Linked DNA regions of Homo sapiens. The protein of the gene in region 3 purifies or fractionates together with the protein of the main gene of each other region. This does not show direct contact. Each region holds a gene or a part of one and is shown on either strand. Other genes may lie near its edges. The genes, in order: MGP, SNX18 and BMP2.

Evidence for each region.
Region 1: the proteins of BMP2 (region 3) and MGP purify together in Homo sapiens (affinity purification with western blotting, with the first as the bait; one study listed by BioGRID). This does not show direct contact.
Region 2: the proteins of BMP2 (region 3) and SNX18 purify together in Homo sapiens (affinity purification with mass spectrometry; one large-scale study listed by BioGRID and IntAct). This does not show direct contact.

What each region holds. Positions count from the first base shown.
Region 1 is NC_000012.12:14,883,015-14,887,206, reverse strand, and holds the start of MGP (matrix Gla protein isoform 2 preproprotein), read left to right. Parts: upstream 1-1,352; 5' UTR 1,353-1,415; coding exon 1,416-1,476; intron 1,477-2,319; coding exon of another isoform or gene 2,320-2,394; intron 2,395-2,961; coding exon 2,962-2,994; intron 2,995-4,159; coding exon 4,160-4,192. UniProt on the Homo sapiens protein: Associates with the organic matrix of bone and cartilage. Thought to act as an inhibitor of bone formation.
Region 2 is NC_000005.10:54,544,315-54,547,135, reverse strand, and holds the end of SNX18 (sorting nexin-18), read right to left. Parts: 3' UTR 550-2,821; downstream 1-549.
Region 3 is NC_000020.11:6,770,540-6,774,196, reverse strand, and holds part of BMP2 (bone morphogenetic protein 2 preproprotein), read right to left. Parts: intron 1-3,657. UniProt on the Homo sapiens protein: Growth factor of the TGF-beta superfamily that plays essential roles in many developmental processes, including cardiogenesis, neurogenesis, and osteogenesis. Induces cartilage and bone formation.

The DNA.
Region 1 (4,192 bases), on a different chromosome or scaffold from region 3:
GGTGGGAGGGAAACTCCATCCCAACAAGACAAAAAGAATGAAGCATGAGGCTCCACCTAGTTCATCACTGCTCCTTGAAATACATCAGTATTGAAAGACACATCCACCCCACCCCCAACCCAGCCCTATTGCTGTTCCAGCTCAAGAGTCAGAGGTCCCGAAGCTGTAGCTCTTCTACAATCTGCTGCTCTGTGACTTCAAGTCTGTTGTCTGCAAAGAAAACTATTGGGTTCCCAAGCAAGAGAGGCACATCTGGTAGGACAGATTTTGTGATTGCAAAAGAAGGGGGAAAAAAAGAAAGAAAGAAAAGACCTCTCTATACAAGATAACCAGAGGCATCAAACTGAAATCCTCCTGTGGAAAATAAGCTAGTACTTCTGGGCCTGATGGTGTAGTGAAAACCTGTGCTTGAGGATACATTACAGTGAAAGAGCAAAGTGAATAGTAAGTAGCTATTACTTACCTCCTTAGGGAGGTGTGTTGTTTGTCTGTACATCCCCCACAGCACCTAGCACAGTACCTTGCATCTCACCTGCCACTCACTAAAAAGTCTATCAAGTTAGTTAATTATCGAGACAACGCCCTCAGAAATGAGAGAACAGTACCCTCTTATCCTTGCTGCACTTTCCAGCACTGATACGCTGCCTAAAAGAGGACTAGGGCACAGGTTTGAATTAATGTCACAAAACTGGATGGGCAAGTTACAACGGTGTTGATTAAGGAAACAGAACTCATGGTGCACCGGATATCTCCATCCTGATGAACCCTTGGAAAAATGCCAAAGATGCATATCCCCAGGCAAATGCCTGATTAGTCTGGGATTGATAGATTGGTCTAGGATTCAGCCCTACTGGGAAGATGTCTAAATTATAATCAGTGTAGAAAGCGAAGTTCTCCTAGAAGAAGAGGCAAAGGTTAAAAAGAAGAAAAGAAAAGAAAGTGAAGTCCTTTCTCCCCCAAAACCTCTCATCAATCAATCAGGGTAACAAACAGAACACTAGGGCTCTGTCTGTGGACCAAACCCAAAAGCCCTGCGGTCAGGGCCAGGAGGGTAGATCATGTGTTTGTGGCAACTTCCTCTGTGGGCTTTTGCCCAGGTCTGTCCCCAAGCATACGATGGCCAAAACTTCTGCACCAGAGCAGCATCCTGTGTAACACAGTCAGGTCCAGCAGTTAGGGAAAACTGCCCACTCAGAGTAGATAATATCTGGAAGGAATGACTGTTTGGGAAAAGTTCCAATGCTAGTTCAGTGCCAACCCTTCCCCACCTTCTCCAGCTCTCTCCCACTGGTTCCTCCCCTCTCAACTGCTCTGGTTCTTATAAAAACCTCACAGCCTTCCACTAACATCCCGTAGGAGCCTCTCTCCCTACTGCTGCTACACAAGACCCTGAGACTGACCTGCAGGACGAAACCATGAAGAGCCTGATCCTTCTTGCCATCCTGGCCGCCTTAGCGGTAGTAACTTTGTGTTATGGTGAGAAACTTTTCTCCCATTTCTCTGTGTTTACTTTTCTGCCTCTGACTTTGGCTTACTTCTATTTTTCCTCTCCCTCCTCCTCTTCTTCCCCCTTTCTCTGTTATAATCTTAAAGTACCATTACTTTCACATTTCCCAGTCTCCGCAGAAACTGATCTGTTCTATTAAGTCTTTTTTATATCCTAAATATCCAGAGTCTTATGCAACTTAACAGGCAAACCCGTTCAGTGGTAAGTCTCTGTATATCTAGAAACTCATATTTCAGAAAGAAGATACCAAATTCCCAGCCCCCTGCATCCTCATTTTTAAGGATATTTATTTAGACTTTGGTATCAATGGGTTAAGGGTATTGTTTAAACCACTTGCCTTTGAGAAAATCCATTTTTATGTGAAGTATTAAGTATAGCCCTTTCTAGGGACTGGACAATCTCATGAACTTACTATGTTTGTTCAGTTAATTAATTTTAAAATAAAGTTTTACATCAAAAGAATTTTAGAAAAGAATCATTTTCATAACTCCTGTTGTCAGAAAATAAATTTTGCCTGTTTTCTATATGTCATTAAATATACCTGCATTTGTTCAAAGCTTATAAAAGGAAATCTGAAGCAAAGTTATTTACTTATTTCAGTCTTTTGTTTCAATTACCTAGATATTTTCATTGTTTTAAAATTTAAATTACATTAACAACCATAAAGATTATGCTTCTCACTCTTGTATTCACAAATTTTCTGTATTAGAGGATTTGATTTCTTCACCTCCTTTTTAAGTTTTGAAGAAAATTCACTTGCTGGCAAATATTAATAGAAGCTTCTTATTCCAAAATTTATCTGCTGTGCTCAGGAGAGTGGCAGAAAGAAGAAAACTTCGGCTTTGATATCGTTTCAGTTCTCTCTCTGAACTGGCATCGTGCCCAGGGTGAGCTGTCAGCTGGAGCTAGTGGTTTCTGTGGCTGCCAATTTAACACAGGTTCTTAAGAGGCTTTCGGAACCCTCTTAGAAACCTGCCCTAGTAAGCCCAGCAGAGCAACTGCCCTGTAGTTCTCTTGCCTGGAGAAACCTGGCTGTCTTCTGGATCCTTCTTAATCCTCTTTGACCCTGTTCTCAAACAGGCTCTGAATAAATCAGAGAAGAAGGTTCTCTGGAGACTTCTGTACAGCACTTAAAGTGTCTTATTTTGCTTGTCTGAAGACGTCATAGCCCTTGGGAAATTTTAGCTGAAAATGGCCACTCCCTCCTTCAACATCAGAGAAACTAAAATATAGAGATATCCACAGCAAGGCCAGAGCTAGAGAAAAACCTCATAAATCCTAAATTCCTGAAATTTCTAATAACCACACTGCTAAATATATTCTTCATGTTTTTAGACTCTTTCCTCTTCTTCCATCCCTGTATTTAAACTATCACAGTGTCTAAATTGATAAATAATAACATAATGAATCATGGATAAATATTGATATAATGAATCTTTTTTTTTTAATTTCAGAATCACATGAAAGCATGGAATCTTATGAACTTAGTAAGTGAATATTTAACTTCTTTATTCAAATCCCTTGCATTAAAGAACCTCTTCTTATTTTTAAATAAACAAGATGGAAAGATATATAACAGGGAGGGAAAAGGGGGCCTCTTTTGGAAAACTAAAGTAAATTTTTAAATCTAATGACTATAAAAATTGCCAAAGGAGCAATTTTTTAAGTTTGAAGTAGTGCAATATGGGATTTAAGCTACAGGCGACATATTTAGAAGCCATAAAATCTCATTTGGAAATTTTAAATTGGCACCACGTCAACTGCACAGATGGAAAACGAGGAGTAATGACAAATGGTAAAGCACAGAGCTGGACGCCAAGTCAGCTGGGAGACCACAGGCGCCACGTTAAGCTGAGTGCTGTTTTGGTTTTTTTGTGTTTTTCTTTCTTGTTTTTTTTTTTGAGACAGTGTCTCACTCTGTCGCCCAGGCTAGAGTGCAGTGGTGTGATCTCGGCTCGCCGCAACCTCCACCTCCCAGGTTCAGGCAATTCTCATGCCTCAGCCTCCTGAGTAGCTGGGATTACAGGCCCATGACATCATGCCTGGCTAATTTTTGTATTTTTAGTAGAGATGGGGTTTCACCATGTTGTCCAGGCTGGTCTCGAACTCCTGGCCTCAAGTGATCCACCCACCACAGCCTCCCAAAGTGCCGGGATTACAGGCATGAGCCACCACACCCAGCCAGCTGATTGCTGTTGAATAGCTGGATTTATAAAGACTGAGCATAGGAGGAAATGGCACATCACTCTCATTTTTAATTTATTCATTATTTTTATAGTGTTTAAACTGTTCATGTATCGGCAATCTAGTTATGCTTCATAAATCCTCAGGACAGAGAATTTCTCCTCAAAAGGAATTTAAAATCTACCAAGTAGAAATACAGAAATTAAGAAAGGCAAAGTGATCGTCCAAACTCAAAACCAACAAAGCCTATATGACAAGTCTCTAAGACACATGGATTGATTACTGATTTCATTTGATCAGGAAGTTAATGAAATCTACTTTATACTCTCCTTTAATTTTTGCCAATCTCCGTTTATATGAGTTGCATAAGTTAAGGCACTTTCAAATATATTTGTGTCAAGGAATATTCACGGAAATATTTCCAGCTATGTGTCGCTAAAACTGCATTTATTTATTTTCTGTTCTAAGATCCCTTCATTAACAGGAGAAATGCAAATACCT
Region 2 (2,821 bases), on a different chromosome or scaffold from region 3:
TTCTAGACATTACAAGATGCTAAGAAAGGCAGGCCAGGAGAAAAAACATATATGTAAAACAAATCTGTAAAGATAAGCAGATACAAGACTACAAAGCCCCACAAAGAGGGCAAGCTTTGCCAAATGGGACTTTGGCCCCTTGCAAGATATGCCAGGTCCCGTAGCTATTATATTTTGGCTTATGTGTGTTGGAGTTCGCCTATTTATGGCAACCAACAGACAGTATGTCAAGTACTTTACTTAAGCACCTGCTTCTGTCTCAGGTATTGGACTCATGGGAGCTATTATTTCAAAACCTCTCACTCACAACTTACTGCTATGTGCTTAATTCCTGATGTCACTAATGGAAGCAGATACTCCATGGGACTATCTGAATGATGATGGTTTTAAATTAATCAAATTAGCTACAGTGTTTGATGAATAATTTCTATGGTAACTGCAGATGAAGCTCAAGACAGAACATGCTCTTCTATTTTTCTGTGTAATTCTTCACATTAAATAAATGCCTCCTTGATGAGTGGAGAAAAAATAATTATATTCCATTGAAGCTAAGAAATAAAGCAACCTGTTTATTTTTTAAAAAGATAAACATGGCTGATCTGCACTAATCATAACATTTTGAAGGAAATAAAACAATATTCAACATTTCTAGACTACAAATAAATAATACCCTGTTTTACTTATTCTGTTAACCAAAGATGAAGGTGGAAATGAGAAAATTGAATGCTTATGGACTTAAAGGTATCAGACATGGCATTTGATTTTTGGAAAATGAAGACATAAATGGAAAATGGCTATGGCAATGAACTTAAGAATGACATTTAAAAGTTTTTACACAAACTTTACATACTTGACAGACTAAAACATTTTTCAAGTCCTTAATTATGAGAACAGCAGCAAAATTTAAGACAATTAAAAATCGGCATTTAAGAATCTGCTGTATTATTGTGAATAAATGCAAAACAACTGTATCAGTGAAGCCTGGGAAAATCTCAATTACTATAATATTCGTGCACTGGCTTTACATTTCACTTTTGAATGCGTTCCCTCATCCTGGGTGCAAACTGGGTACCTTCAGATACAACAGCTTGGACGGGGAACAAGATTACGACACATGGCTGTAGAACCAGTCTCGCTGCGTTACAGTTACAGCATATAAACAACTCTGTCTAATAAAAACAGTAAAACCAGGCTCAAGTGCACACCCTGTGTTACAAACACATCACATATCAGGATTATAAATCATAGAAATAAAGACAAATAATGGCATGAAGGGCATGATAGTTTATTTTTAAAAATTGTACCACACTGATCATGATGACCAGCATACACATGATAATGGCTTTTCTCTTGGGTTTAACATTGCAGTAGTTTTGCATACTGCAATGTTTCAATAGGACCAAGAACGTTAGAGAATAAAGATCTTAGATGAAAATGAACACTAATAATTCTAGTGTCCTCCCCCATAGAATTAATGTAAATCCCGTATGAATCAGTGGCATTATAATGTTATGTGGTTATGAAGAATGAAATTTCTCTTAGAAGTAGGCAGCATGAATTTATACTTACATAAGTATAACTTATACTTCCTTGTACTTTCATCTTTAGTTTTTATAATTTAAGCTATGTCCACCCTGGCTAAAGTACAATCATACAATATACCTCAGATAATTTCCATGCTACCATTGCACAAGTTTAGTGATTTTACTATTAAAAAAAAAAAAATCCAACCACCATCAAAATAAAGAGGCAAATAAAAGTAATTTTTAAATCATTTGAAAAGCATGGTGCTTATTTGTCCAATACAGACTCAAACTTAAATGCTATAGTTATAATTTCCAGACTTCCGCAAAATTAACATTTATATATACATATGGGTTTTGTTTATAGAACTGTATTTTGCAATCAACAAGTTTTAGAGACAACATATTTGGTTACAGTTCCACATATCTGTAGTAAAGACAAAGCCACATAATGTTCATGATGTTAAATCTGGCTCTAAGTAACCTAAGGTACAAAATTTTGACCAAATATCAAAATGATAATCTGATCTTAAAAATACAACCCATATGAAACTACTTTTTAGAGAGAAAATGTGCTGTTCAGTAATTATTTCAATAACCTTTTCTGAGTATCTGCAAACTGATCCTTTTCTTTAATCTTTGTGACTCACCAATATTTCAAAGTGACCTCTTCACTTCCATGTTACCATTTCAGTACCCAGGGATTTCTGAGGCAGCATAAGTTTGACTTCATAAAAACAGTAGATACTCTAACAGTGACAATTTTTAAATCTGTAAACTCAATAATCACATTAGTTAGCTCAGCAACTATAAAAACATTGAGATTGGGGCACTGTAAGCCAGAATCTCTTTGTGCTTTTTAAATTAAGCTGCTTTTGAATCTTTTTGGTATTTATCAGCCATCTGTATTTCCCTTATAATAATAAAAGAATACATTTAAAATAAATTTTAAGGTTAAATGTCCTGGGGGGGGGGGGCTCATCAATACCTTTTTTTTTTTTAAAACATAGTATAAATCAATTATCTTTTTCCTTCAGTATTTGGAATAGCAAAAATTATTTCTGGTCCCTCCTTAGATCAATCCACACCACTTTTCATGACATATTAACACTGAAATTTACAGACATCCCTGAAAAGTTTTTAAGTAAACAAGTGAATCACAGTGGAGTCTCAATCAGTTAACAGTGTAGATCCATTTTTTTTCAAAAAACTGAATATTAAAAGAAAATCTTCAACCTAAAAACAAAAACAAAAACAAAACCCTCCTAAGAACTAAAGCCAAGTGTGTGTTGTCAATG
Region 3 (3,657 bases):
GGACTCAAAAACTTAAGCAAAAGTCAAAACCATTAGGGGCACATTTATATTTAGTACAATGATAACATTGGGTGAGTTCTGTCCCAACTAAATGAACAGAAATATATGACTTAGGTATGATGGACAGAACAGACAGAAATGAGCAGAAAAGTGACGGGGCCCACTGGAATGTGTCTATTTTATAAGGAGCCACTGCTATTTTGTGGCTGCCCTTTTGTTCTAAATAAAGTATGGTAAGTTTTATCAAAAAAGTAAGTTACCGTTATGCTTCGAGGATTTTAAAACACACTTTGGGCTAAAAAATCTCCAGTAAAACAACAACAACAACAACAAAACCTGGGGATATGCTGGCAATCAGTAAGGCTGGAAGTCACTGCCCTAACACAAAATGAAAGAGGCTGAGTATAATATAAGATTTTCCAGATAATAAAATAACAGACAACTGATCAAGGAGAAAAAAAATATCAAATACAAAAGGTTAAAAACATTCCATTTTAAAAAAAATACAACAAGGGAATGGCAAATAAAGGAATAGAGAGCATGGTTGTCATCAACAACCCTGATTTGGCCTCTGCCCACCCTTAACACCAACACCTTCGGAATGATGAAATATTCTCTTATTGTCTCAGTGAAAATACACAAAGAGCAAGTCTAAGAACGCAAAATAGTTCACTGCAAAGGGATTAAGAGAAATTTAGGGGAACCACTAAAAAACAGGTGGAACGGAAAATGTCAGTGCCAAGGAAGTATCACTGGACACCAAAGCCTCAATCTCAACAACCATTTCCAAATAGAGTAATTTTCCTACTTAATGTGGCCTCTGTAATGACAATGAAATACCTGGGGCCACTAGGGAACCATACCAGGTAAGTATTGGTTTTGGTGGATCTATGTGTCCAAATCTGTTGTTTGCACGGGGGAATTTGTGCCACAAAGTCTCTAATGCAGGGCAATAGTTATTTCTTGAACTTTTCTATTATATGGATATTTTCATAATAATTATATTTGTGGAAAGAGGGTTAATCTCTATTTGAAAGCTTCAGTCACAGAGGCAAATAATCCAGTTATTTCATGTAGAAAGAAGACTGTGTCCTTCAGAGTGAGGAGAACAAGAAGCACCTGGTCTTTCTCTCTCCCATCTGACAAAAAAGCATAAAGACTTTTTGGAGGGCCAGTGAAGTCAACCAGTTTCAATGTGTTTCCAACTACAGCAATACACAAAACACTCTTTCCACTTGCAGAACTGACTTTTCTATGTTCAATGGCAGTTTCCAAAGGTCTATGTAGCTGAAGCACTTTTTAATGATCTTGAAAACAATAACATTTTAGCAAAGCTGATATTCTCCCAAATAAAAGCCACTGGAGAAAGGACTAGACAAAATTCAATAGGAAAAATACAACTGATAATTCTGTCTCAGATCCCCTATGATATGGTCGCATTATACTCATATTGGTTGAAAGAATGCTATCATGATATCTCGTCGAGTAATTCCACCAAACCATTCGATCACACCTACAAAGAAAACCCAACAGGTAATTCTTATGATTGGGTCTTTATGGTCTTTTTTCAAATAAATGCTCATTAATGCTGTAGAAACTAAATTCTGTTCTTGAGCCAGCAACCTTCATCACATGGTTTACCAAAAACTTTTTTCGTGGCATGCATGGCACAAGGATGTTTATCAAAAGCAAATCCTGGGTGTATACAACAATGATTAGTCTTGAAAAAAGTGCTATATCCATCCAGATTAAGGATGATATATTAGTCATAATGAGACAAGAAATGGATTAGTTGAAATTTGGGGCAAAATTACATAGCTTTTCTCCATTATCTAACTGCATTAAGACCTGAAGTTATTACAAGTTGATTTTAATCAAGTTGGTCACTTCTGTACTGTTTCTCAGGTAACATTTACACTCACAAAGATATAAATTCTGATTTTATAAACTCAAGCATGCTTTTTAAGTTAAAATAACACAGTTGAATAACGTGTAGCCTGTTTAGTTCTGATCAAACCACTTCTAGATGAATGATGAGAATATGCAGACATCACTGATAAAATCCTCACACAATGGAATGTTTTAGGTGTTAACTAACTTAAATGATCTTCCTTTTAAGTTGTAACAGAGACACAGCATCTTCCAGGCCTTAAAAATAAAGTTGAGAGCTTCCATGCTAAATTTCCAGAAGAGGTGTCTAAAACAGTTGTTCTTATTACATTCCTATACAAAAAAAAAAGTATTCTAATCAGCATTACCTGGGAATGATTAGCTGGATCTATAATCATTTCAGGGTTAAGATGGCAGAATGTACACATACACACAAATTTTACATATGACAACAGGTGATTTCTGCTTTCATTGGATGAATTCTGAAAGAGTGGAGTGAGATCTTACTGCCTTTCAAATCTGATTTCTGCTAGCAGAGAGCACCTCACTTAGAAATGTGCTTGTAAATGAACTGATGATCAATTCAGTGTCCCCGTCGTAATGTGTAGCTGCCTCAATGAGAACGTATCTTCTGCTATGTGGCTTGCCTTTGGGACTTATTCCCATTACCAACAAATACTCTCACAAGTATAAGTCACCCTTCACACTGGGAGAAAACATCTGGAAGTGCCATTTCCCATTAGTCTATTATCAGTGTAAATTTCCCACTTGAAATTTACCACCTAAGCAGGGAAAGGCAAGAAAGAGAACTTCACTCCCAACTCCCCAAATATCTGCCAAGTGGTTGCTCTGTGATATACACTTTTGTACTCTTTTCTAGGAATTGAAGAAACCCATGCTCTATTTTAAATGTATTAAGCCAAAGAAGCATTTAAAAGTGTAGAAAAAGAATTGAAGTGGAACATATTTTTGACTAATTGCTCTAAGAACTTAGGTACAGCAGACCTCAATAGCTGCTGTAAGACATTTCCAGTCCACTAAATGCCCTTCTGATGAAACAAGCAGAAATATCCCACCTTAGAAAAACCACATGTAGTATCATAAAAGAAAAAAAAATCCACATTTCGGTGCACATGAAAAAAAAACAGGCAGCTGCTACAAACGCTTTTATCTGAAGGCTTGCCTTGTCTCTACTCAGAGCCTATCTCAGATTTAAGCACAGGACAAGAAAGTCATTGTGGAAACAATAAGATTGATTGTAGTATTGATCTCCCACGGGGATTAGATTGGGATTCAAAATCTTCCAAACCAGGCCCAGATCAACTATAAATTAGAAAGACTTTGGGGCCCTGGGCTTTGATTTTTCAATACTATCTCTGAAAACTCTGCCCTTGGCTCTGTCTACCCTAAAACCCTGGCTTAAGCGGCAGATTTATAGAGCAAAAGCTTCCAAACAGACTTAAAGAAATCTCAATCTGCCTCCCTTTTTCTCCTTTTCCCTCTGTGGAATTCTTGCACGTTTAGCTGACTAGAGGCATGCCTTTTGCCCTCATCTTCCCCATCACTTGATTTCTCTCCAATTCTTCCAGGAGGAGTAGCTCTTCTGGCTGCAAGCCAGGAAGAGGGTGCGGAGTTACTAAAGGGGAATCCCTGGCTCCCCCACCACACAAGCAGTGAGTTAAAATCAGATTCAGAAACGATAGTACAGAAGCAAGAGTGGAAACGTCCGCTGGTGCCCCGGCCAAGCTGCCTCTACAGGGACGGCTG